Linked DNA regions of Homo sapiens. The protein of the gene in region 2 purifies or fractionates together with the protein of the main gene of each other region. This does not show direct contact. Each region holds a gene or a part of one and is shown on either strand. Other genes may lie near its edges.

What was found.
Region 1: the proteins of MTCH1 (region 2) and ANGEL1 purify together in Homo sapiens (affinity purification with mass spectrometry; one large-scale study listed by BioGRID and IntAct). This does not show direct contact.
Region 3: the proteins of MTCH1 (region 2) and TOMM70 purify together in Homo sapiens (affinity purification with mass spectrometry; one large-scale study listed by BioGRID and IntAct). This does not show direct contact.
Region 4: the proteins of MTCH1 (region 2) and AGPAT5 purify together in Homo sapiens (affinity purification with mass spectrometry; one large-scale study listed by BioGRID and IntAct). This does not show direct contact.
Region 5: the proteins of MTCH1 (region 2) and MIGA1 purify together in Homo sapiens (affinity purification with mass spectrometry; one large-scale study listed by BioGRID and IntAct). This does not show direct contact.
Region 6: the proteins of MTCH1 (region 2) and USP30 purify together in Homo sapiens (affinity purification with mass spectrometry; one large-scale study listed by BioGRID and IntAct). This does not show direct contact.
Region 7: the proteins of MTCH1 (region 2) and MTARC2 purify together in Homo sapiens (affinity purification with mass spectrometry; one large-scale study listed by BioGRID and IntAct). This does not show direct contact.

What each region holds. Positions count from the first base shown.
Region 1 is NC_000014.9:76,810,083-76,814,113, reverse strand, and holds the start of ANGEL1 (protein angel homolog 1), read left to right. Parts: upstream 1-1,231; 5' UTR 1,232-1,286; coding exon 1,287-1,350; intron 1,351-4,031.
Region 2 is NC_000006.12:36,969,197-36,972,696, reverse strand, and holds part of MTCH1 (mitochondrial carrier homolog 1), read left to right. Parts: coding exon 1-45; intron 46-2,002; coding exon 2,003-2,050; intron 2,051-2,223; coding exon 2,224-2,291; intron 2,292-2,582; coding exon 2,583-2,658; coding exon of another isoform or gene 2,659-2,844; exon of another isoform or gene 2,845-3,500.
Region 3 is NC_000003.12:100,363,090-100,366,589, forward strand, and holds the end of TOMM70 (mitochondrial import receptor subunit TOM70), read right to left. Parts: intron 2,629-3,500; coding exon 2,475-2,628; 3' UTR 342-2,474; downstream 1-341. UniProt on the Homo sapiens protein: Acts as a receptor of the preprotein translocase complex of the outer mitochondrial membrane (TOM complex). Recognizes and mediates the translocation of mitochondrial preproteins from the cytosol into the mitochondria in a chaperone dependent manner.
Region 4 is NC_000008.11:6,725,642-6,729,141, reverse strand, and holds part of AGPAT5 (1-acyl-sn-glycerol-3-phosphate acyltransferase epsilon), read right to left. Parts: intron 1-3,500. UniProt on the Homo sapiens protein: Converts 1-acyl-sn-glycerol-3-phosphate (lysophosphatidic acid or LPA) into 1,2-diacyl-sn-glycerol-3-phosphate (phosphatidic acid or PA) by incorporating an acyl moiety at the sn-2 position of the glycerol backbone.
Region 5 is NC_000001.11:77,859,649-77,863,148, reverse strand, and holds part of MIGA1 (mitoguardin 1), read right to left. Parts: intron 3,110-3,500; coding exon 3,023-3,109; intron 1,926-3,022; coding exon 1,827-1,925; intron 1-1,826. UniProt on the Homo sapiens protein: Regulator of mitochondrial fusion: acts by forming homo- and heterodimers at the mitochondrial outer membrane and facilitating the formation of PLD6/MitoPLD dimers. May act by regulating phospholipid metabolism via PLD6/MitoPLD.
Region 6 is NC_000012.12:109,059,076-109,062,575, reverse strand, and holds part of USP30 (ubiquitin carboxyl-terminal hydrolase 30), read right to left. Parts: intron 1-3,500. UniProt on the Homo sapiens protein: Deubiquitinating enzyme tethered to the mitochondrial outer membrane that acts as a key inhibitor of mitophagy by counteracting the action of parkin (PRKN): hydrolyzes ubiquitin attached by parkin on target proteins, such as RHOT1/MIRO1 and TOMM20, thereby blocking parkin's ability to drive mitophagy.
Region 7 is NC_000001.11:220,751,322-220,754,821, reverse strand, and holds part of MTARC2 (mitochondrial amidoxime reducing component 2 isoform a precursor), read right to left. Parts: intron 3,493-3,500; exon of another isoform or gene 3,413-3,492; coding exon of another isoform or gene 3,411-3,412; intron 1-3,410. UniProt on the Homo sapiens protein: Catalyzes the reduction of N-oxygenated molecules, acting as a counterpart of cytochrome P450 and flavin-containing monooxygenases in metabolic cycles.

The DNA.
Region 1 (4,031 bases), on a different chromosome or scaffold from region 2:
GCTAGCGAATGCAGATTCGGCCGCTTGCAAAACCAACGAGCAAGGTCGTGGTATGGTAGAAGGAGACTGACTTTATTATAAACCAAAGCTAGCAGTGGGGAAAAACGATCCAGGCTTTTGCTTTAATGGAGCTGCTTCACATTTCCAAGCAAAATGCGAGGCTTTAAGAAGTTTTGGCATGGAGGGTATGCAAGGGGTGAGGCAGTGCAGGTCTTCATGACGAGTTCTGATGACTTGTCTTGAGTTACTGCCCATCTGGTGAATGGGCTGGCATCATCTCGGGCTGGGCTGAGTTATAAATTAACTGTAGCCTTGAATCAATCTCCTGGTGGAGATTTCCACAGATGCCTATATTGTTTCAAGATTTAGTCTCTGGAACTTTTAAGCGAACATACAATTAGATATGCTAACAGTGTGTATGGGGGGTGCTGGGGTGTCGGGGGGTGCCTAGTGGTTAACTGAACAAAAATAAAGAAATAGAAGTATATAACAAGAATATAACTTCCAAGCTGGGTACTTGGTTACAATAGGTGCTTGGATTGTATTAGAGATACCTCAAAGTGAGCAAACAACCAGCCAGAACTGGTCCCTGGCCTTGTGGAAGTTTCTCTCTTCTGTCTCTCTCCTCTCTCCCTTCTCTCTCTCCTCTCTTTGTCCTCTCTCCTTTCTTTCTTGACTTCCTTACCAATGGGAAACCCTGTTTTTCTAGATTAGGGAAAAGAAGGCCCGTTTAGAAAGTAGGGAAGGAGACAAAGTCTTACTTCCTGAAGCAAGGTAGGACTCAATTTGTGACCTAGAATCTGAGACAGGGAAGTAGAGGCAGGAAAACGGGGGAAATGGGGGAATAACTCGCTTCCTTTCTGGGTCGAGAAGGGCTAGAAGTCAAGGTTCAGTGGAGCCTTAGAGAAAGTCCAGCTCTTCATTTTACAGGTGAGGAAACTGAGGGGCGGAGAGGCTATAGTGTGGTAACAAGGTGGACACCTAGTCAGCTGCAGAAGTGGGAATAAACTGTGGCCTTTGAATAACACTATGGGGCCTCCAGTGAGGCGCTCAATTTTAATTCGGGACGCCTGGGTGGCAGCCGGGTGCTAGGGGTGGCTAGTTGCCATGGGAACCGGCTCCTCCCACTTCCTGCGTGCGCACCCGTAGACCTGCGCTCCCAATAAAGTTGTTGTTGAAGCGCGGCGGCGGCACCACGTGGGCCGGACCGGGCCGGGGGCGGGGCCGAGCTGAGGGAGGACCTGCTGGCTGCAGTGAGGAGCGGAGGCGGGCGCGGGCGGCCGGCCATGATCGCGTCGTGCTTGTGTTACCTGCTGCTGCCGGCCACGCGCCTCTTCCGCGCCCTCTCAGGTACCGGCCAGGCGTACCGACAGACAGGAGCCCGGCCAGGGCTCGCCTCTGCGGGGCTCCGCGGGCCTGGGGCGGCGTGCGGTTGGCCGGGCCTCACGACTACCGTGCCCCGGGCAGTGCCGAGGTGTAGGGAGGCGGTCCTGAGCCCCTGCCCCGCGGGCCCCTCCTGACCCCACGAGGCCTGGACCTGGCCGACGTCCCTCGTGGGCGGCCCCTCCTCCCGCCTGTTGTCAGATGGCGTCCGGCCGCGGTTAAGGTGGAGAGGAGCTGTGGACGGGCAGGGCCCTTTCCTGGCCCTGGGGGTGCAGAGAAATTGTGGGGTCGGCCAAGTCAGCACCCCGGCGGGTCGGGAAGGGGTAGTAGCTCGGACCTAGGCGAGTGCCCAAATTCTCAGCGGGCGAGGCGGGTCGGCTCTGGGAGGTTTATGGCCGAAGTACTGGACGCACCGATCTTCCCCAGGTTAACTTCACACTCGCCTTTCACTGCCACCTGGCAGCTCTCGCTCACCGGTGTCTTTGGTTGAAAAACGGACGTTCAATCAGAGACACATTTAGATCTCAGCTTTGGAGCATTCCTGCCCCCACTCCCGGCGGTTTAGAGGGAGATGTGCTGGGGTGGGGGCAATGCCCAGTCGATACCTCAAAGAGGGGGTGTTTATTTCGTTATTGTTTCATAATTTGTCTGCATTCTCTATTTCTGGGCTTTGAAATTACGGAGGGTTTTATGCGACCATCAGTTTCTGAGATCCCATGGAACTCGCAGACTTTTTGCCTTTAATTTATGGGACAGGACCAAGAAGTACTTAGGAATGAGGGCTCCAATTGTATATTCTGTGGTTTTCCTTTGTGGAACTTTACACAATTGGTACGCAATGTGTGTGTCATTGATAATATATATTTCATATAGAAATATTTTAAATTTTACTGTGTATCTGCCATTAGAATGCAAACTTCAGGAGCGCAGGGCCACGTCCATTTTGTTCGCTGTATCTCTGGTGTTAACACATTGCTTGGTATACAGTAGGCACTCAGTGAATTCAGGAATGTCTTGTGTGTCCATACTTCTGAGGAATGTGGGAAACTCCACAGAAGTAATTGTTTCCAGAGAACTAAACATATTCTTTTAACTATGTTGCTGTTTTTCCTGGAGCTCTTCTAATGCCTTAGTGATACAGTATACTAGTCCAGAGGTTTCCAGACCAGTAGAGTTCTAGGGATCTCAGAGGAGGGCCCCCCCCGCCCCCCCACCTACACATTACAGTAGTCCCACTTATATTTACTTGGCATATTTGGTTTCCAGATAAGATTTTTAAAAAACAAAAGCATTCTGCTGCTGAAAATCCACCACCACCACCACCAAAAGACATCTACCAAAATTGAAAGCTAGTAACTTCGTGCATATGAACCAAAGAACCTCTGCCATCTGGTATACACAGAGGATATTTCAAGGGGCAGATAATCAGGAAGTCCTTGAGGCTAAAGCTCAACGACCCAGCCCATACATAGGTTTAGAGCAGGGTTTCTCAATCTCAGCACTGTTGACGTTTTGGACCGGATCATTTGGTGTGGGTCTGTCCTGTGAATTGTTGGAAGTTCAGCAGCGTCTCTGTCCTCTAACCACTAGATGCCAGTAGCAATGCTGCAGTTGTGACAACAACAGTGTCTCTGAACGTTGCTAAATGTCTTCCGAGGGCAAAATCACCGTGGTTAAAACCATTGTTTAGAAGGACATAAATATACATAGACCCCAAACAAGATATTTGAACCGTCTTTCAATATTTGAGCCACTTTTAAGGTTTCTTCCCTTTAAAAAAAAATTGCCAATAAAATGAGTCTAGTGATTGAGGGCCAGCATCGTGCATGTTACTCGTCCTGTGCTGTAAATAAATGGTTGAGTGTGTGAGTGTAGGAGTTGTTTGCTCTCACCAAAATACTGTGCTCAGAGTTTGGGGGCTCTAATTTTAGAGTTTTTCCCACTTTCTTTCTTGCCTGTTGGCTGTCATTGGTGGCTGCAGTATCAGAGAGATGTCAGCTGTCTCTTACTGTCGATTGTTGGCACCTTGTAATTTATAGCCTCTGATGTGTTGTGGAATGGGAAAGCAGATAATGAAGTTTGTGAAGATTTTATTACAATAAGTAGCTTTGAGAAAAGGCTTAAGGGCCCTTGCTAAGATGTAAATTGTATAGATTTTTGAGACTGTCTACTTTAGGACTTTTTCTTTTGGAATACATTAATAGATTAGGGAATTTATACAGCTAGAAAAGCTCAGAGATTATCTAGTTCAAACTTGTCTCTATTTTTTTAAATTTAAAATTTATTTTTTTCTTTTCTTTTCTTTTTTTTTTTGAGATGAGGTCTCACTTTGTCTCCCAGGCGGGAGTGCAGAAGGGCAGTCATAGCTCACTGCAGCGTCAACCTGGGCTCAAGCAATCCTCTCATTTCAGCCTCCCAAGTAGCTAGGACCATGGGCATGTGCCACCGTACTTGGCTAATTTTTAATTTTTTGTAGAGATGAAGTTTCGTTATGTTGCCCAGGCTGGTCTCTAACTCCTGGCCTCAAGTGATCCTGCTGCCTCTGTCTCTGCCTCCCAAAGTGCTGGGAGCCACCACGCCTGGCCTCTTGTCCCCATTTTACAGTCAAGAGTAACTTCATCTGACTAGGGGCATTGTTCAAGGTCAGT
Region 2 (3,500 bases):
GACACCCCAGGGGGGCTGGGAAACGACCAGAATCCAGGTTCCCAGGTTGGTTGGAACAAGGACTTGTCCTTCTTTCCGTGTGCTGCTGATGCCCAGGGTCTGGGACAAACTCAAGGATTCTGGGATTCTCAGCATCAGGCCGGGAGGGTGAGAGAGGACCTCTCATTATCCCTGGAGTCATCTTTGTCTAAGGGGAGAACGGCCTCAAGAGGCGAGATTCCAGATTAGTACCCAGACCTGGGAGGAATTAATGGAATGCTTGTCCCTGGGCGCCTTAGAAACAGACCCCAGCTTATCTAAGGCTGCTCCGAGGCAGTGACCCAACTAGGGCTCAGGAAGTCAGAAGATAGACCAGCTAATAGTGATCACCTCTTGACCTTTGTGTCACGTCTTTTGCTTTTTAAAACCCTTTTGTGAACGTTATGGCCTTTGATCTGACGGCATCCTAGTTGTGAAGGGAACAGGGCAGGTATAATGTTCGTTTACCAATACAGAAATCGAGACCCAGAGATCACAAATTCTGGAGAGGCTCTGGGCTCTCCAGAGTCACTCAGCTGGAACTGACAGGGCTGGAATTAGATCCCTGGCCAGGCCAAGGGTGCATTCCTCTGAGTTTTTTCAGATCTGCTAGGAAGTGTACAGTCCGATACACCCTCCTATTTTGTTAGCTGTGGTCTACACAGCCTAGTATACATAGACCTTTCAGCAGGTCGGGTCAGGCATAGGAAGGCCTGGTCCTTCTACACAGCACTTGTTGAGGAAGGCCATCCAGGTACCTGAGGGGTTGACTGGTTCTGCCTGAACCAAGATAAGAGGTAGGGAGCAGCGATGGCTGGGAATTGCAGTGTCCAGACATTCTCACAGTGGGGATCACCTTCAAGAAGGATGGCATTCCTTCTTGAAGTGGCTTTCCCTCCCAGGAGGCTAGGAGGGCCTGGGGACGTGTCTGCCAGAATCACCTGGGTGGGAAGGGGGTCATGTTCAGCATGTGTGTGTGTGTGGTACATGTCTGTTCTGTGTGGTGAGGAGTGCCCCATCCCAGATGGGAGCCTCTGCTTGCAGGGAGACTGGCCACTTGACCTGGGCAGGTGAGTCTTCACTGGCCTTTCGATGTAAGCAAATTAAAGTGGCTCCATAGAGACCCACCCCATCTGCAATCACAGTGGTACATTCCTGCAGTTCTGCCCCTTCTCGGGGGGCCTTGTGGGTGGGTAAGCTGCTGCTGTCACATACAGAGCAAGGGTGGCCAGGAGTGCACCGCTAAGTGGTTTCTCATCTAGGTGGGCAGCTGTCTGACCAGAGGCTGCCGTGCTTACATCAGCAACAACAGCAGTCAACAGATTTGTCTAAAGTGTTTTTCGAGTGCTTTTCTGTATGTGGCTTAAAGGCCGAGGTGAGGCTGCCGGGCTGTCAAAGCCACTCAAGCAGACATCTGAGCAAATCTCTGACCAAGAACCCAGGCCATCGATCTGGTGGGATGGCCGCTCCACAGGAAGCTGAGGGTGGGGGAGTCACCTTTCCTCACTAGGAGCTGTTTGCTTCAGCAAAGCAGGATTTGAGGAGTTGGGGTCTGAAGGGGGAAAAGCTTGCTGAGGTGGAGGTGGCGATAAGCCTGGACTTGCCCTCACCTCACCCCACAGGCCAGGATTCGTCTTTGGGTTTCAGGGTGCATGTCTGTCTTAGCACTGACTGCGTGCCAAGCCCTGGATGTTGATCAGGCAGACACGGGCTCAGCCCTTGAGGCTCACAGTCCGGTGGGTTGCACAGGCAGCGGCAGCTGATCCCTCTTACCGGGTCTCCTTCTCGGGACTCCCTTCAGTCCACTTACCCCGTTTCTGCCCCCCAGGCCTTCTCTGGGCAGTGACTGTGAGGGCTGACAGGAAAGGCATGTGCAGCGTGCTTGTGAGGAGCTCAGCACAGAGGGTGGGGTGAGGGCATGTGTTGCTGAAGTCTGCATCCTGAGGTGCCTGTGGCAAACCACTCTTCCCTTCTGTCTCCTCAGTTCAGCCAGGCCCTGGCCATCCGGAGCTATACCAAGTTCGTGATGGGGGTAAGTTGTGCCAGCTGTCCTTCCTTCCCACTGCCTTGCGGACCCAAGCGGGGCCTAGGAGGCCAACCCTGGTAATGGCTGGAGGCAGGTCTTGGTACAGGGTGTTGGCGTGGTGTGTCCCTGCTCCCTGGGCCGGGGTGGGTCACTGGCACTCAGGCCTCTCTGGGTTTCAGATTGCAGTGAGCATGCTGACCTACCCCTTCCTGCTAGTTGGCGACCTCATGGCTGTGAACAACTGCGGGTAGGTGTGCGCCCCTCTACTTGCCACTCTACCTACCAAGGCTGTGGGGTGGGGGAGACCCACCGAGCCCTTCCAGCACTCTGCCCCCTCCCACCTGCTCTGTGTGTAGGCTTGGCCTGCCAGGCACCCTGGCTTCCGCTGGGATTTCCCAGCACCCCCTGGGGTAAACTGTGGTGTCAGGGGTCAGGGTGTGGATGGGTGGTAGCCTGAAGGCATTCCTTCTTGAAGTGGCTTTCCCGTGGCTGGCTGTCTTCCACTGTTCTCTGCATCTACACTCTCCTTCTCCGGCAGGCTGCAAGCTGGGCTCCCCCCTTACTCCCCAGTGTTCAAATCCTGGATTCACTGCTGGAAGTACCTGAGTGTGCAGGTGAGCAAGCACTGGACGGCGGAGGCCTTTCCTGTTCTTTGCTACATCCTTCAGCTGAAATGGTTTTGTGGATGCTTCATTGCATGCAAAGATAAGTGGTTTCATGGAATTCAATATTGTGAGGAGATACTTGGTATCTATAAGGCATTTAAGTTTTCATCTTACATAATTTCAGAAAGGATTTGAGGTGGCTAAGTGTGGGTTTATTTTAAGATTATACATCAGACAAGACCTTTTCTTCTTTGAGTCTTAAAGACTCTTAGGATAAGGATAAGAGAACTCTGGCCCAGGTGGCAGGTGGTAAAGCCCAAGAACTGCTTCTCCTTCAAGTAACATGGGCTGAAAATTCGAGGTCTGTAACCAGTTGAGCTGAGTTCCTGGGTTGTTAGGGCGGCTGGCATTGGAAACCGACTCCTCCCTCCTGCAGGACATTCCTGGGCCCAGGAGAGCCTGTGGGTGGGGCTGGGCCACGTGGGGAACTGGCAGCAGTACCAACCTTGGGTTCTCGTGTTCTGTACCGAAGCTACCTCTCCGTAGCTGGAGCTCTTGGGCCCAGCAGTCAGGGGTCCAGGCTTTGGCCGAGGGCAGAACCTTGCCTTTTCCTGGCCTTGATTTGCCTCGCAGTGAAATGGGGCAGTGGCCCGGAGGGAGCCAGAACTCTGAGTGGCCTCGAGGCTGAGAAGAGGACAGATGGGAGGGAAGCAGGGAGGAGAGCCGCAGTTCTTCCCAGTGGCCCTGGTCAGCGTGAGTGTGTCTCGTCCTCCCTATGAGCACTGAAAGAGTCCTAGACCACTTGGGCTCTGAAGCAAGAGGGGCAATGAGCCTCCTCTCTAGGGCTCTCC
Region 3 (3,500 bases), on a different chromosome or scaffold from region 2:
TTTACGCAATAGCATAATAAATGAATAAACTACCTTTTTTTTTTTTTTGAGACGGAGTCTTGCTCTGTTGCCCAGGCTGGAGTGCAGTGGCGTGATCTCAGCAGGTTCACTGCAACCTCCGCCTCCCGGGTTCAAATGATTCTTCTGCCTCAGCCTCCCAAGTAGCTGGGACCACAGGCGCCCACCACCACACCCGGCTACTTTTTTGTATTTTTAGTAGAGACGGATTTCACCGTGTTAGCCAGGATGGTCTCGATCTCCTGACCTCGTGATCTGCCCGCCTCGGCCTGCTAAAGTGCTGGGATTACAGGTGTGAGCCACCATGCCCAGCCTAAACTACCTATCTTTCTATTTAAAGAATAGATAGAAGAGCTTGAATGTAATATTTATTTGGTGAATTTACATGTGAGGTCATTTACAAAAGAAAGATACAGACAGATGCAGCTTTCAGTGCAGTTTCAAACATTTTCACAACAGGCAATAGTCCATGAGAATTTGGAATGACAGTATAGAATGGCACATGCTTCAGTTTCCTTTGTGTTTCTCTACCCAACCCCAAGATGAAAGAAGGGAGAAGAGTAGAAGAAAATGTCAGTGTTAATGTAAATACAGCCATGCAAATAAAAACTTTTTTAAAGTCAGAGGTCATTCAGAGATGTAGAACATTTCTGTATTTGGGGGTTATCAGAAGGTGCATAATTTAAAAACAAAATGCAGCGGTCTCAAACTTCCCATCATCCAAATCATCTTGAATTATATTAACTGCACCAACTAATTAGTGACCTCCTCAATATTTTCCAAAGATTGACTTTGAAAGGGAGTCATTTCTAATAGTTTCTAAAAAAGATAGCATTTGTAGACAAATCTTTTTGGTTTCAACAGAATTAAGCACCCTTAAGGGGTGTAAAAATGCTCCTTTACTCCCAACAGTGTAAACCATAATTATAATTCGTTCTTAAATAAACCTCTCCCCATCCTGAGTATTTCAAAACAAAAGACCCCTGAAGAACACAACCCTTCCCTCACCAGAAAAATCTAGCATATAAGCAAAAGGATGGTCTATAAAAGTGGAAAATGGAAATAAATCGTAAAGTGATTTCTAAGTAAGGAGGTGGAGTAAAGCTTAAACACTGTCAGTACCCCTAGTGAAGACCTGGACCTGGGTAGTTAGTCCTTAGAGATCAAGGTTAGCTCACTACAAAAAGCACTCTACATGTCCTCAGCATCTTCAAAAATAAGTGGCTCAAAATTCCTTAAGCACATGTAGCCATAGTTAAAGCACTAAACTTGTTATTTCAGGAAATACTATGCTCTGGCTCCAAGTCTTACATCCTTTTTGACCCTTTAGCCACATGTCCTTCACGAGAAATTTTAAGCTATTTTAATACTCCCATATATCACACTTACTCTACCTTTATTTGGGTTTTACATACAAGCAATCTGCACTTTGATTTTAAAAAAGTTCTAAAATTTTTTAAAGGATGGGGTCTTGCTATATTGCCCAGGCTGGAGTGCAGTGGCTATTCGCAGGTGCAATCATCATGGCACATTACAGCCTCGAGCTCCTGGTCTCAAGCCTCTTGCCTCAGCCTCCCTAGTAGCTGAGACTATAAATAGTATATACAGTGCCACTGTACCCTCTATCCTACATTTTTAAAAGCTCACCATTAAATAGTACTAATTATTATAGAAAATAGTCACAGACAATTATAAACACACTACTGTTTCATCTTACCTCTTTGTCTGGTCCACTCCCCCATCAATACTCAGTCTTCCAACACATATATCAATTAGAATATTTTGCATCTGCATAATTTACTGCAAGAAAATCTGCTGTTGTGGACTTTAAGAAGAATGTACACTATCCATTAGAGTGGAAAGGGGCCAAGAGGATTAATAAGTGCCACCAAGTTTCTAAAACTGCAGAATCAGAGGCATTGTGCATGCTGACAATGGTTTAAAGGGTCTCTCAATTTTACTTTAATCCCCCATTTAACCTTTGTTTCTTTCAAAAAATCAACTGAAAGCGGTTAACTGAATATAAATCTATTTTACAGCATTTACTACGTTAATTTAAAAATCAACATGCTGTAAAATACTTACATTATTCACACATATATAGACGGAATCATCCAGAACATAATCAACTGCCAACCCCCCTTAAAAAAAAAATCAACAAATCAGTTTTTATTTGCATGGCCAATTATCATTTGTACTCTTTGCAACTTTATTTAAAAATCCCTTTAACATGTTCTAATCTTTTGTTGCACAGGGAATAAAAGCTGCAAGACTGCAAACTTCCTTCAACAGCCACACCCACAACACCTAGACATGAAACAGATGTAACAAATAACAACACCACAAACAGAAATACTGATTTCCACCATTCAACACAGTTCATGACAGTGTCTTTAGGGTTCAGTTGAAGAGGGGGTAAACTTTTAAAAAGAGGGTCAGTCTGCTTTCCCCCTGTTTTATAATGTTGGTGGTTTTAATCCGTATTTCTTTGCAACTTCTGTCTGGGCATGGGCGGCATCGCAAAGTGAATACAGATGGGCCATCTCCATTTCCGATTTGGCCAGGTTAATAGCTTTGTTGAACATGTCAATGGCTTTCTCCATGTTTCCTCTAAAAGAACAAAATTTTTAAGTCTCAGATTCAACAAGCACTTCACAATATTCAATGAAGGTTGTAAGTGATGGTACATGAAGTCTGACCACTAAGTTTCTTCACAATATTCAATGAAGGTTGTAAGTGATGCTACATGAAGTCTGACCACTAAGTTTCTACTATGATTCTAGTAAAATGCTTCTTTTAAAATAAACAAGAGTACCTACCACATTGAAAGCACTCAATGAATGTCAACTACTATTACAAATACTATGTGCTTACATTATATCCCTTGTATTCTGTGTTTACTGATAAGAACAGTCAGACTAGGGAAATTGATTGGCTTATTTAAAATCACAATTCCGTCTGGTTCCTAAATTTTACATGTTTCTACTGTTAACATGAGACTCCTTTAGAAAGCAGTGACATAATACCGGGACACTAATGACATGCAAGGGCCTTACCTTCACAGACTGATGTGGGCCCACCTCTTTCTGTTTCATCTCTTACCAGCACATCCCCAACCCCATGCATCTCTACTCTTCAGGCAGTCTATGTGAGTTCCTCACACCTACTCAATAAATACTCAGATTTATTGCCTCTGCCTGATTCTGGTCAAATCCACAGCTATCTAAGAACCAACTGTTTTAAGTAACTAGTATTAGCTACATATATATGCAATCCTACAAAGAATATTAAGTCCCTACTATATATATATATACCTGCATATACAGAGTCTAACTGGCATACATGTTAGTAAGGTACATTTTATTGGCATATGTGCCAGTTAGACTTTATATGCCAGTAAGAGGTACCACTAGGGTGACTATATTTAATCCCCCATTATAATATATGGCAACGTGATAGGCTTATTTTTAAAAAAAACTTTT
Region 4 (3,500 bases), on a different chromosome or scaffold from region 2:
TTATACATCTCTCTTTTTAATCAGGGATTATCATTCACAAGTTAACTTTTTCTTGATGACTTAAGACTTATAATTATTATACATATGAAACTTTTGTTATGGCTCCCTATAAGTAGAATGTTGCTTGCAAAGATTCTCCCCTACAGTGTATGATCCCAGAGACAGACACAACCTGTGTTATTGGGTTGAGATATCTATACTATTGGGCTATCAATGATCACTTTTCTCTAAAGTATATAAATTCCTGTTGAAGCCCTCTCCCTAGCCCCTTCTAATTTAGATGGAAGAAATAATAACTGATAAACATATTTCTTTCTAGTCATGTCTTAGAAACCATATAATCGACCCTGTTATACCTGTACCAAATGCAAAAGTAAGCAGACAATAAATTCTGAGAACTAATTCTGTATGGTTCTGTATGGTTACCAGGCTACAGCACATCTTGGAAATATAGTTGGCGTACAAAGTTAAAAACCAGGTTTAGCATTTTTTCCTGCAATAATTTTTTTATTTGGAAGAATTTTAAAAATGGGTTTTATTTTAAAACAAATGGTTTTATGGTTATATTATGGCCTCACATGCCCCTCCCAAGAACTTTTAAGAGAAAGTGTAAGATTTCCAAAATACATCATGTTCATAATAAGCTGCCCTGGGCTATGCCCTTAAACTTGAATATTTTAGTGGAAACATTTAAGAACTAGCTTAACTAGTCAAAATATAAAAGCTTTGTGTCACCAATATTTGCTACTGAATTCTCTTTATTTCTTGTTTATTCTCAGCTACCTTTCAGATAGGACATCAGATTACAGACAGTTTCTGACTATCTCAGTTACAGCTGAGATTATATTACTTTGACAATAACTTCATATTTTGTGTTCTGGCATAATTTAACTAAGATAGCAATAAATTTGGCTGTGTGAGAATCTTCCATGGCAATCAAGCCAAAGCAGAGTCATAGTTCCCATTAACTTGGAGGAGAGGAGTGGAAGGCAGTGAGGGGCAGCAAGTCTAATTTCCTCATCCCTATCCTCATGAAACAGCAGTTCCTAATTCATGAGGGCCCTGTGTAGTCCAAGAGATACTGCATGTGCAGCGCTTCCCTGCCATGGATCCAGCGCTATGCTAATGGTGAGCTATGACTGTCATCACAACCACTTTTAAATGCCATCTATGAGCCAGGTACGCTACCAGGATTAGGAGACAGCCTCTGTAAGGTGCCTGAAAGGAGCTATCACTCACACCTTACCAATAAGGCTCTGAGAGATAAGTAATTTGCCCACTGACACACAGCCTATTGCAGAACAGCATTTCTGCAATGCCGAACAGGAACCTGGGTCTCTCTAACTCCAAAGTCCATCCCTTTTTATAACATTCTACTCACCACGCATGCTGTTCAACAAGAAAAGTGACACTTCAGCCAAGAAAAGAGAACATTTCATGAGATTAAAAAGGCAAATAGCAGGCAGGGCACAGTGGCTCACGCCTGTAATCCCTGCACTTTGGGAGGCCGAGGCAGGCAGATCACCTGAGGTCAGGAGTTCAAGACCAGCCTGACCAACATGGTGAAACCCCATCTCTACTGAAAATACAAAATTAGCCAGGCGTGGTGGTGCATGTCTGTAATCCCAGCTACTCGGGAGGCTGAGGCAGGAAAATGGCTTGAACCCGGGAGGCAAAGGTTGCAGTGAGCTGAGATTGCACCATTACACCCAGCCTGGGCAACAAGAGTGAAACTCCATCTCAAAAAAAAAAAGGCAAAGTGTTGTCAAAAGTAGATAGTTGAAGGATAAGGGGAAGAAATAACAGCCACTATATCCTGCTGACTCGAGAGAGAAATAAGCTAACAGAGACAGAGACAGAATGTAGAGACAAGGATGTGTCAAGCGAAAACAAGGGAAGAGAGAGACTAATTTAAATGTCAATTCTTTTGAGTATCAGGCCAGGAAACTCATTTATTCCGGCAAGCCTGGCAGAAGACAAACTAGAAAGTCTAAGCAGAACAACAGTCTTTGAAATATTCTTTCCGCTAATTACATTTTCAGAGATACTCTGTTGTGATTCCTAACATCTCAAAAGGGTTTTAGAAGGGTACCTAAACACAATCAGACAATGAACCACGTCTATGGATAGGCTTTAGGGGTCTCTGAAACCCTAAAACTACATGCAAATTTTTATATGCACATTTTTCTAGGAAAAGGCTCTGTCATATACTGACTAAAGCCTGTAATTCTAAAGAAATTTAAAATCATTCCCCTAGTATTTTCTCAACTTACAGAATTTTAAAAGGCTTTCAAAAAGCAGCCTTCCCAAATCCTGCTGGGATGAGGATGTGGTGCCAGAGCGGTGATACAAAGTCACAGGCACTCGGAGGTAGGGTGAAGGGAAGGGGAAGTGGTTCTCTAAACTGATAAATGAAATTCAGGTCAGTATGGTCTGAGTATGAAGATTATCCTTCCCATAGTACCTTCTAGTCCCAAATACATGCAGAATTGTTTTTTTTAATCTGTTTTTTCATGGATGTTTTCTAGAAGTCCTTAATCTGAAGGAATACATATAAAAGCCAACATGTAGTAAGCACACAAATTAACAGTACTAGTGATCAATATTATCACTATCAGCAACACTTCCAGAAATGTTCAGAGAACCCACTCCACAAGTCACTACTAGAGAGCTCTATTAATCGAGTGGAGTTCATACTGAAACCTGGACAAAGAAAAGCTGGCAGGTAAACTGAAGAAGGAATTTTAAGAGAATCCTGTTAAACAGACAACTCTACATGAAATTAACACTGGATCAAAATAAAGGAAATGCAGGAAAATCAAATCTATCAAGAGCCATTCCCTGTACTGGGCCCACAGATCCCTTTTGTTTGATATTTAAAACCTGGAAGAAACATCCATCAGCAGCAGGACAGGAAAAGCAGAATGGTATTAGAAGTAAAACAGCCAATATGTCTGCACAGGCCAGAGTTCTCAGCAGCATTGACCATTGGTTGACTGTTTTGCTATTTTTGCCAAGAGTGAAATGTAATTAGATAAAATAGTCTGAACCAGTCATGTAATAAAGTTGGGGAAAATACTCAGATACATCAAGATTCCTATCAACCCCTTGTAGCTTCAACCCTTGTCCTATAAATCTGAATGTAATCATTAATTCACTAAATTGAGAAAAATGCATTTTAACTTCTTTTACTTTCTATACCTCATCTATGGTATAAGCAGTAATAAAAACCACAAAATCATGAAGAGACAGCTGACAGGAAGAAAATTTAAAAAAAGCCACAGGCATAAGTGATTTCCCTAAGAGTACTATATTGATCAGGTTGTTTTTAGCTTAAGAGTACTATATTGATCAGGCTGTTTCCAGCTTTGAGCTTCTAGGTATTATATTTTTTAAAGTAATAAAAATGCAATTTAGGAAGTACGCATCAAAAGTAGCTACAGGTTTGAAAACATAAGAAGTGGGATTTTTTTGGAGGGCTGAATTATTTGGAGAATTAA
Region 5 (3,500 bases), on a different chromosome or scaffold from region 2:
AAATGGGTGAGCATCAGGGAGAGGTGAAGGATGAGTCTCAGGTTGCTGGCCTGCAGAAGTAAATGGATACTGATTTCATTTCCTGAATAAGGGAACACTAGAAAAGGAAAAATTAAGTCTTCATGTATTTGTTGTATCCACTGTTTTCTCTGCCTAGAAGGCCTTTCAGCTGCTTGTAAACTCACTCTTTTTTTTTTTTTTTGCTTCTGAGACAGAGTCTTGCTCTGTCACCCAGGCTGGAGTGCACTGGCACGATCTCGGCTTACTGCAGCCTCCACCTCCTGGGTTCAAGTGATTCTCTTGCCTCACCCTCCTGAGTAGCTGGGATTACAGGCATGCACCACCATGCCTGGCTAATTTTTGTATTTTTAGTGGAGACAGGGCTTCACCATGTTGGCCTGGCTGATCTCAAACTCCTGGCCTCAAGTGATCTGCCCGCCTCGGCCTCCCAAAGTGCTGGGATTTCATTCCTTTTGTGTGTGTGTGTGACGGAGTCTCGCTCTGCCACCCAGGCTGGGATTACAGGCATGCGCTCCATGCCTGGCTAATTTTTGTATTTTTAGTAGAGACAGGTTTCACCATGTTGGTCAGGCTGGTCTTAAACTCCTGACCTCACGATCTGCCCGTCTCAGCCTCCCAAAGTGCTGGGATTACAGGCGTGAGCCACCATGCCGGACCGATATCTATATCTATATATTTTTTGAGCCAGAGTCTTGTTCTGTCACCCAGGCTGGAGTACAGTGGCGCGATCTTGACTCTCTGCCACCTCCACCTCCCAGGTTCAAGCAATTCTCATTCCTTGGCCTCCCGAGTAGTTGGGATTACAGGCGTGAGCCACTACACCTGGCTAATTTTTGTATTTTCAGTAGAGATGAGGTTTTGCCATGTTGGCTAGGTTGGTCTCGAACTCCTGACCTCAGGTGATCCGCCCGCCTCAGCCTCCCAAAGTGCTGGGATTACAGGCGTGAGCCACCATGCCTGACCAATATCTATATCTATATATTTTTTGAGACAGAGTCTCGTTCTGTCACCCAGGCTGGAGTACAGTGGCACGATCTTGGCTCACTGCCGCCTCCACCTCCCAGGTTCAAGCAATTCTCGTTCCTTGGCCTCCCGAGTAGTTGGGATTACAGGCGTGAGCCACTATACCCAGCTAATTTTTGTATTTTCAGTAGAGACAAGGTTTTTCCATGTTGGCTAGGTTGGTCTCAAACTCCTGACCTCAGGTGATCCGCCCGCCTCAGCCTCCCAAAGTGCTGGGATTACAGGCGTGAGCCACCATGCCTGGACCGATATTTATTTCTATATCTGTATCTACATATATATTATAAACTGTGAACTCACACTGACAGCTCCAATTCCAATCCCAGCATTTTATACCTCCCTTCTCTCACAGGGAAAAGCTGGCTCTGATTTTTCTCAGTATACTTATTTGTTCAGTCTTGTGTATACAGCCAATTCCCCAGCCCTACTGAGCTGCTGCTGTTGTACTACCCAAAGCTGTCCTTGCATGGGCCACCATTCCTGTCCTGCTAGGGGCCTGCCAATGACTTTTGGAGAGAAGGAAGAGAGGGAACAAGGGAAGGAGGACAGGAGGGAAGGAAGCAAGGAGCCAACAACAGCAAAAAAGGCTTCTTAGAAAACAATTTACAACTACTGCCCCAACGTACAAGGAGTGTGGTTTATGACTTCGTCAGAAAAAAAGATGTCCCACAACCATACAATTGGCTTTATTTAACAAGGACAATGAAACAGTAGTCTCAACTCATATAAAATTACATGCAAATAACTAAGAAAAATAAATATCACAAAAAATTTGAATTTACCCCTCTAGCAGCAAGTTCCATTTCAGTACTACCCCAGTGATCGGTCTGCTCTAAAAAATAGATCATTTCATCAAAAACATCTTCAAACTTCTTTGGATTCTGAAGAAGAAAACACATTTTAACCCTAAACTCAACTTTATAACAAGCTACAAAGAAAGTTACTCTTCAAATAAGTCTGGTAGATCTTAATTCTACTAGGTAACTGAACTAAAATACATTTTAAAGGTATGCCAAATTTATCTGGTTTACTACTTTGCTATTGCAACATTTTGCAGAAGCCAAGATAAAGAATGTCAGTAAAATGTCACAAGCAAACTATTTATTACTCAAATATGTATGCCTATTTTGGTCAGTAATTAAAATGAAAATTTGGTTATAGCAGACATTATGTGAGGCTTTTGTTGCAGTTCTGCTTCTTTTGGAGGAACCCTAGTTCAAATCACTGAGTTTATCTGTCATGAGAAGGCCAAGAAAGCAACACAAGACTTACATTGGGAATTGCATGTATTAATAGTATCACCTTACATATACTTAGCTTTACACTACTTAACACTTTATTCTTTAAGTTGCTTCCCATTTATCATTTATTTAATCATCCTAAAAACCCTCTGAAATGAGGTAATATAAATACAATTCTATTATATAAATGAAAGAATTAAAGTTCAAAGGGATTGAGTCTGAAAACTAGGTGTGCAAATGGCTCAAGGAAGGCTTGTTTTGTTTTATCATCATCTGGACAAACCTTGCATAAAGTAAGGTGGTTCCTTACAGTCTGAATGAAGTTCTTGTCATTGCTTCTGCCTCATTCAACTACATGAAGATGAGGCAGTTCAATTTGTATTCCAGATTTCTGAGACCTACGCTATTTCCTGTAACCCTCTTCCTGAACAGGATTGAGGTAATAAAAGAGGAGGCATTAGTAATAATAACAGTGATGGTTATAGCAGCAGATCTAATGATAATTCTCACCATGACATTTACAGAGTTTATGGCAAACTGGAAATAATTTATGAGAAACAACTTGGTTGAAATAGTGTGGACTTTATACATAGTTCAACCCGAGCATAACTTAATGCCCTTTTCAACTATCCACAAAAATTTTTCTTCTATCAAAAATTTAATGTCTTAATCTTCAGTTCAAAGGGTAAAAACAACTTTTGTAAATGGTAAAAATCTTGCCAACAGAACAAGTTTACCTTTCGTGCTTTCACAATTAAAGCTGATAAAATTTTCCTTCCGCTCTCAGCGAGGAATATCCTGTTAGCTGATTCTGAAAGAATTACCTGAAAAAATATTCATCCCCAAAGAAAAAAGAGACCTATAATGAATGTGAATGGACATTCAACTTAATAGCACAAATAATCCTAAAACAGTTAATGCATTGCATGTGGTGCTATTTCAACAGGCAGCTCACAGAGAAAGTCCTAATTTACTAAAATAAAAAGAACTCTTGAAACCTATAGTCAAAAAAAGATTAAAGGGAGTTAAATTTGAATTTAAATTCTGTTCAAAATCATATTACAGTCTCAAATAAATTTCCTATAGCCCCAAAACATAAGAAAACAAATATATTCTTGTTATTTTCTTTTTAGAAAATCAATTTTATAATTGACTGAAATTAAATCTCAAATACACACTAATTAATAAGAAAGAGTGTTTTTATTTTAAGCAGCC
Region 6 (3,500 bases), on a different chromosome or scaffold from region 2:
CGGGCGGATCACGAGGTCAGGAGATTGAGACCATCCTGGCTAACACGGTGAAACCCCGTCTCTACTAAAAATACAAAAATATTAGCCAGGCATGGCGCCTATAATCCCAGCTACTCGGGGGGCTGAGGCAGGAGACTAGCTTGAACCCAGGAGGTGGAGCTTGCAGTGAGCCGAGATCATGCCACCGCACTCCAGCCTGGGCGACAGAGCGAGACTCCGTCTCAAAAAAAAAAAAAAAAAAAAAAAAGTGAAGGAGGTAGAGCTACATGTACTAAAATGGACGCTTCTCTAATGTATTATATTTGGCCATGTAAATCACCAACAGAACAAAACAATATACAGGCCAGGTGTGGTGGTTCATGCCTGTAATCCCAGCACTACGGGAGGCTGAGGCGGGTGGATCACCTGAGCCCAGGAGTTCAAGACCAGCCTAGGCAACAGTGTGAAACCCCATCTCTACTAAAAATACAAAAATTAGCCAGGTGTGGCAGCACGCACCTGTAGTCCCAGCTACTTGGGAAGCTGGGGTGGGAGGATAGCTTGAGCACAGGAGGCTGAGGTGCAGTGAGCCGAGACTGCACCACTGCACTTCAGCTTGGGTGAGACCCTGTCTCCAAAAAACAAAACAAAAACAAAACAGAAAACAAAAAAACCTACAATATATAATTTCTATGGATGCATAGAAATGTATTCAAATGCACAGAAAAGGGTCTGGAAGGATTCACCTATAGCTTCCTTTTGGGAAAGGTGGAGGGGAGCAGGGTTGAGTATTGATAAAGGGGACTTTGGCCTTCTCTGTAATGCTTTAATCTTTTACAAAGAGAACTGATTCATGCATTACTTGTATAATTAAAAAATTATTTATAGGCCAGGCATGGTGGCTCATGTCCGCAATCCCAGCACTCTGGGAGGCCAAGGCAGGCAGATTGCTTGAGCTTAGGAGTTCGAGACCAGCCTGGGCAACAAGTCAAAACCCTGTCTCTACTCAAAATACAAAAAATTAGCCAGGCCTGGTGGCATGTGCCTGTAGTCCCAGCTACCTGGGAAATGGAAATGGAGGATTGTTTTGGGCCTGGGAGGCAGATGCTGCAGTGAGCTGAGGTTGTGCCACTGCACTCCAGCCTGGGCGACAGACAGAAGAACCCTGTCTAAAAAAAAAAAAAAATTTTTTTTTTTTTTTTTAAACCAAAGTTAGAGACATTGGAAAGCAGAAGCAGAGAAATGAGCAGACATCCTGGGACAGCAGCCCAAGGATGGCTCTGGCTCCCAGCACTGGGTCCCATGTGAAGGATAAGGGCAGTGCTGAGGTCAGGGTTAGGATAACTCATGTGGACATTTCAGCTTTCACAAAATCTTTGGAGTGGTGTTTTTAACCCATTTCCCATTTGCCCCAAGAATACTCCTGTCTTTAATCCTAATGTAACATCATATACATTTCTGTTACATTAGGATTAGAGACAAGTTCTATTTAGAAATAACTCCCATGAACATGGCTGGGTGCAGTGGCTCACCTCTGTAATCCCAGCACTTTGGGAGACCAAGATGGGAGGATCACTTGAGGTCAGGAATTTGAGACCAGCCTGGTCAACATAGCAAGACCCCATCTCTATTTTTTTAAAAAAATTAAAAAGGCCAAGCATGGTAGCTCACGCCTGTAATCCCAACACTTTGGGAGGCCAAGGCAGGTGCACCACTTGAGGTCAGGAGTTCGAGAGCAGCCTGGTGAAACCCTGTCTCTACTAAAAATACAAAAACTAGCCAGGCGTGGTGGGGCATGCCTGTAATCCCAGCTACTCGGGAGGCTGAGGCAGGAGAATTGCTTGAACCTGGGAGGCAGAGGTTGCAGTGAGCCGAGATCCCGCCACTGCATTCCAGCCTGAGTGACAAGACGAGACTCATCTCAAAAAAAAAGGAAAGAACTCCAAGAACAGTTTTTCTATTTTCGCATTTAAAATCAGTCAGATTTGCTTCGGCCTCAAAGAGCATGTTTACGTAAAATTAGATGAACGCTGGCAGCGAGTTGCACATTTTTTTTTTCTAAACCAGGAATGGGCTAAAAAAACAGGATAGTAAAAGAAATTATTCCCAAGTCACCTCTTCCACAGAAAAGTACACTTGCTTCATAAAGATTTCTGTGTCAAGCAGAGCTCACATGGGAAAATACCTCAGTGAAGCACGATTTAGCTGAATGTTTTTTAAATCCAATTTTCTCCTTACAGTGAGAGCAATATATGCTTATTGTTAAAAGTTGAAGTATAGTTTTTTTCCAAAAATGATTTTAAAATTACCAATGACTGCACAATACCAAAATGGCCACTGCTAACATTTCAGCATTTTTCAGTCCAGTCTTTATCTGTGGAAGTTCCTACCTTGATGAAGTCAAATTATATTTTGTACGCTGCTCTTTAAATTTAATATTACAGCCTATGCCCTCACCCAAATTAAAAAAAAATTTCATAAAAGTGATTCTTAATGGCTGTATGCCATCGATTACTTTATCATTTTCCCATCTAAGTGCTAGCCAACCACTACCCGGCTTAGCTTCCGAGGTCTGATGAGATCAGGTAAGTTCAGGGTAGTATGGCCACAGGTGATTGCTTAATGATTCTGTTTGATATCTACATTCTTTCCTTTTGCCATTATAATTAGGTGTTGGAGATCTTTGTGCATACATTGCACTCTGTATAATACCCATGGAATGTCAGCAGATTTTATGAAGAAAAAAAACAGTTCTACAGTCAAAAAGTTGGTTTAAAAATGAAGTTGGGCTAGGTGCAGTGGCTCACGCCTGTAATCCCAGCACTTTGAGCTGAGGCAGGCAGATCAGTTGAGGTCAGGAGTTCGAGACATGTCTGGCTAACATGGCGAACACTGTCTCTACTAAAAATACAAACATTAGCCGGGCGTGGTGGCATGCAGCTGTAATCCCAGATACTAGGGAGGCTGAAGCAGAAGAATCGCTTGAACCCGGGAGGCGGAGGTTGCAGTGAGCTGAGATCGTGCTACTGCACTCCAGCCTGGGCAACAGAACAAGACTCTGTCTCAAAAATAAAATAAAATAAAAATAAAAATGAAGTTGGGGCCAGGCGTAGTGGCTCATGCCTGTAATTCCAGCACTTTGGGAGGCTGAGGCAGGCATACCACTTGAGGCCAGGAGTTTGAGACTAGCCTGGCCAACATAGTAAGACCCTGTCTCAACTAAAAATGCAAAAAATTAGCTGGGTGTGGTGGCACAGACCTGTCATCCCAGCTACTCAGGAGGCTGAGGCACAAGAATCACTTGAACCTGAGAGGTGAAGGTTGCAGTGAGCTGAGATTGTACCACTGCACTCCAGGCTGGGAAAAAAAGGTGAGACTCTGTCTCAAAAAACAAAAACAAAAAAAAGTTGGGTAGGTTATTTCTTAAAACCTTTACCAAGCCAGTGTATATTGTGACTCTCCAAGTTGGGGGCTACCATTCAGCCATTCCTAAACTTGTTTGCTTTTAGACTCCATTTTTC
Region 7 (3,500 bases), on a different chromosome or scaffold from region 2:
AGACAATTATCCAGGTCTGGCCAAATGATTTGGGTCTAAAAGTTGGTGACCCCAGAAAGAGCTTATTTGGCGGAAACAGTTCTGGGAGAGTGTCTGGCTGATGTATGGCAATCTCCAGTTTCAAAAACAAGAACATGAGCCTGGCTCAGAGACTCTCCCTCACTGCTTAGTCAACCCTGCTGCTTGTCTGGGGGTTCTGCTTTGGTTAGAAGCTTCTGCAGGTCTGTTAAATATGTCTCTGTGGCCCTGGGAGAAGTAAAATAGCTTTCAGGTCCTTTTGTTGTAGAACAAGATGAGGTTGGCCAAGTGAGTTTGAGTCTGAGACAAAGGTCTTGCAATGTTGCTGCCTCCAAGCGGAACCAGGCCAGCCTCTGCTCTGTTTAACTTGCCGCGGCATGCGGGGGTCCTACATCAGGAAACCTCCCAAACAGCCTTTCCTCTTCATGCACACATTCTGACATAGAGAACAAAGACACACAGAAGTCACATGTTAGATAAGAATCCCACTTATTTCCTAGAGAGCCCACTGTACTGGACTTGGTTTTCTTACTTTGTATTTCTATGGGATGAGCTGAAGAGTGAGGGGAAGCTGGCCAGGCCCAGTTGGTTAGGCTTTTACCTACAGCCTAGCATATAGGTTGGGGCTGTACCACACAAAAGACTGTGTTGCCAAAAAGAAAAAAATCTTCCACTCCTAGGGAAAATAAATTTCAATATCACAGTTTAGTTTCATTTTGTTTTGTTTCGTTTAGTTGTTTTGTTTCATTTCGTTTGAGACAGAGTCTCACTCTGTCAGCCAGGCTGGAGTGCAGTGGTACAGTCTAGCTCACTGCAACCTCCACCTCCTTGGTTCAAGTGATTCTCTTGCCTTAGCCTCCCGGGTAGCTGGGATTACAGGTGTGTACCACCACGCCCAGCTAATTTTTGTACTTTTAGTAGAGATGGGGTTTCGCTATGTTGGCTGGGCTGGTCTTGAACTCATGGCCTCAAGTGACCTGCCGCCTCAGCCTCCCAAAGTACTGGGATTATAGGCATGAGCCACTGTGCCTAGCCCAATATCACTATTTTAGAAAGAAGATAGAATCTGCAGACTAGCGGGTGAGGAAAATGCAGGCACTGATAAGTAAAAATTGTCTGAAAGCCAGAGGCTTTCCAAATGTGAGGAGGATAAAAAGCACAGCCCCTTCCAGAAGCAGGGGCGGCTCCTCCCAGGGAGACATTCCAAAATATGACCAGAGCCATCAGGGAAAGGCTGAGGAGACCTCAGGAGGACATCCAATATCCCAGCACAGGGAGCTCCGTCTCTGCCCTGTCCTGACCCTGACAGATAGTCTTACATCTGCAACCTCCTTATCCGTAAAGTCCTTTCCAGGTGCTGGCTAAACTGTCCCTTCCCCGCAACCACACCAGAAGACAATGGCTGGCAGCCTGTGCTCTGCTAACTGGCATTATGATGGTGTGGCAGTGTAAAGGCATTCCAGTAACTGTCTTGACTACCTGCTTCCAAAAAGCTGGTGACACTGGGTAGCAGCAAGTCCCCACCCCACTGAGGAGACCACCTTTTTCTTTCTTTCTTTTTTTTTTCTTTTTTTCTGAGACGGAGTCTCACTCTGTCACCCAGGCTGGAGTGCAGTGGCACGATCTCGGCTAACTGCAAGCTCCACCTCCTGGGTTCACACCATTCTCCTGCCTCAGCCTCCCATGTAGCTGGGACTACAGGCACCCGCCACCATGCCCGGCTAATTTTTTGTATTTTTTTTTTTTTTTTTTTAGTAGAGACAGGGTTTCACCGTGTTAGCCAGGATGGTCTCGATCTCCTGATCTCATGATCTGCCCACCTCGGCCTCCCAAAGTGTTGGGATTACAGGCGTGAGCCACCGTGCCCAGCCCACCATTTCCTAAGTGTATATATGCATATGTGTATTATTTATTCATTTATATATATTTATACTTAATTAATATCAAGAGAGAGGGAGACAGGGTCTCACTCTATCACCCAGGCTCTGGAGTACAGCGGCGTGATCTTAGCTCATGGCAGCCTTGAACTGCTGGGCTCAAGCGATCCTCCTGCCTCAGTCTCCTGAGTAGCTGGGACTACAGGCACACACCACCACGCCCAACTGATCTTTTTATTTTTTGTAGAGATGGGGTCCCACTGTGGTCTGGACCTCCTGGCTGGTCTGGAACTCCTGGCTCAATTAATCCTCCCTCCTTGGCCTCCCAAAGTGCTGAGATTACAGATGTGAGCCATCCTGCCTGGTCAAAGATGTCTTTAGATCCCACAGTTCTCTGGCTCACTCATCCTGGGGCTGGGTTCTGTAAATCTGAGGATGTCTGCCCAGAGAATGGGGCTACAGTGAAATAGGCAGGCATCCACTGACTTAGATGCCTCACAGGGCTGGGCCCTATTCCCTATTTCCAGCCTTGTCCCTTGGTGCACATTTCTTTGGTTAGCCTCACTAAAGCCTTCACCCTTAACTTCCAACATGCCCCTTCCCCAGACAAGACTCCCTTTGAGATCTGCACACAACCAGAGCCATGTCCAAACAGGAGTGGCAAACCTGTTTGCACATTATTTCTGACATTATTTCTCCATGGGCTGAATCTTCTCATCTCCCATTCATCCCTTATTAATGTCGCCCTTCACCGTGGCTCACAGCCTGGCCTGTGGCTCCAGACTGTTGTATAATAATACAGGTGTTAACTGCTGAGGTTAACAGTGGGAAGTTGTCACTAGAGGTTTCCCACTCATCACTGTCACTGAAAAACTGGCAACTTACAGGGAGTCCAATTTTGGAACAGGACAAATACAGCAATCACAGGTTAAAAGGTTACCATTTGTAACATACCCCAACCATCTCATTTCCCTGTCAACCTGGGCAATATTATTTTTCACCTCTTGTGCACAAAATGATGCCCAGTGAATGAATAACTAGTTCTATTCTGCCAGATCTGAAAGAAGAGATAAGTCTGGAGCATAGATTTCATCATAACCAAGTTACCCCAACCTAGTCTGCAACACTAAAAGCCAGCACCTTGAATTCACAGGTAAAACATGAGTATGTGGTAGAGGGATCAGTGTAGAAGCCTGGAGCCCCGATTCCCCAAAAGAGCTATAGAGCCCCGAACAACCAACAGCAACGGGTAAGTGGAGCCCAAAACAACAGAAAAAAATATCATTTCTCAATTACAAACTGGCCTGGGGAGCAGGAAGGACTGAAAAGTGAGGGAAAGCAGGAACTCTACTACTGAGTGTGGGAGGAGAAAAACAGCAGGAATTGGGCAGGGAATAACACCCTGGACAATAATAAACTTAAGGGATTCCTTTCTCCAACAGTTCATCATTTGTGCAGAAGAAATAAAGGACTGGCTTCAGTAAGGGTTTAGAGAGATAAAACTGATCAACTCACATATGGCTGCTAAGGAGAGCAGAGATTTCCAAGGTCAGGGAGGACAAGCACGCCCTCCCAGCAACTGCACCAGGCACCGAATGCCAGCAT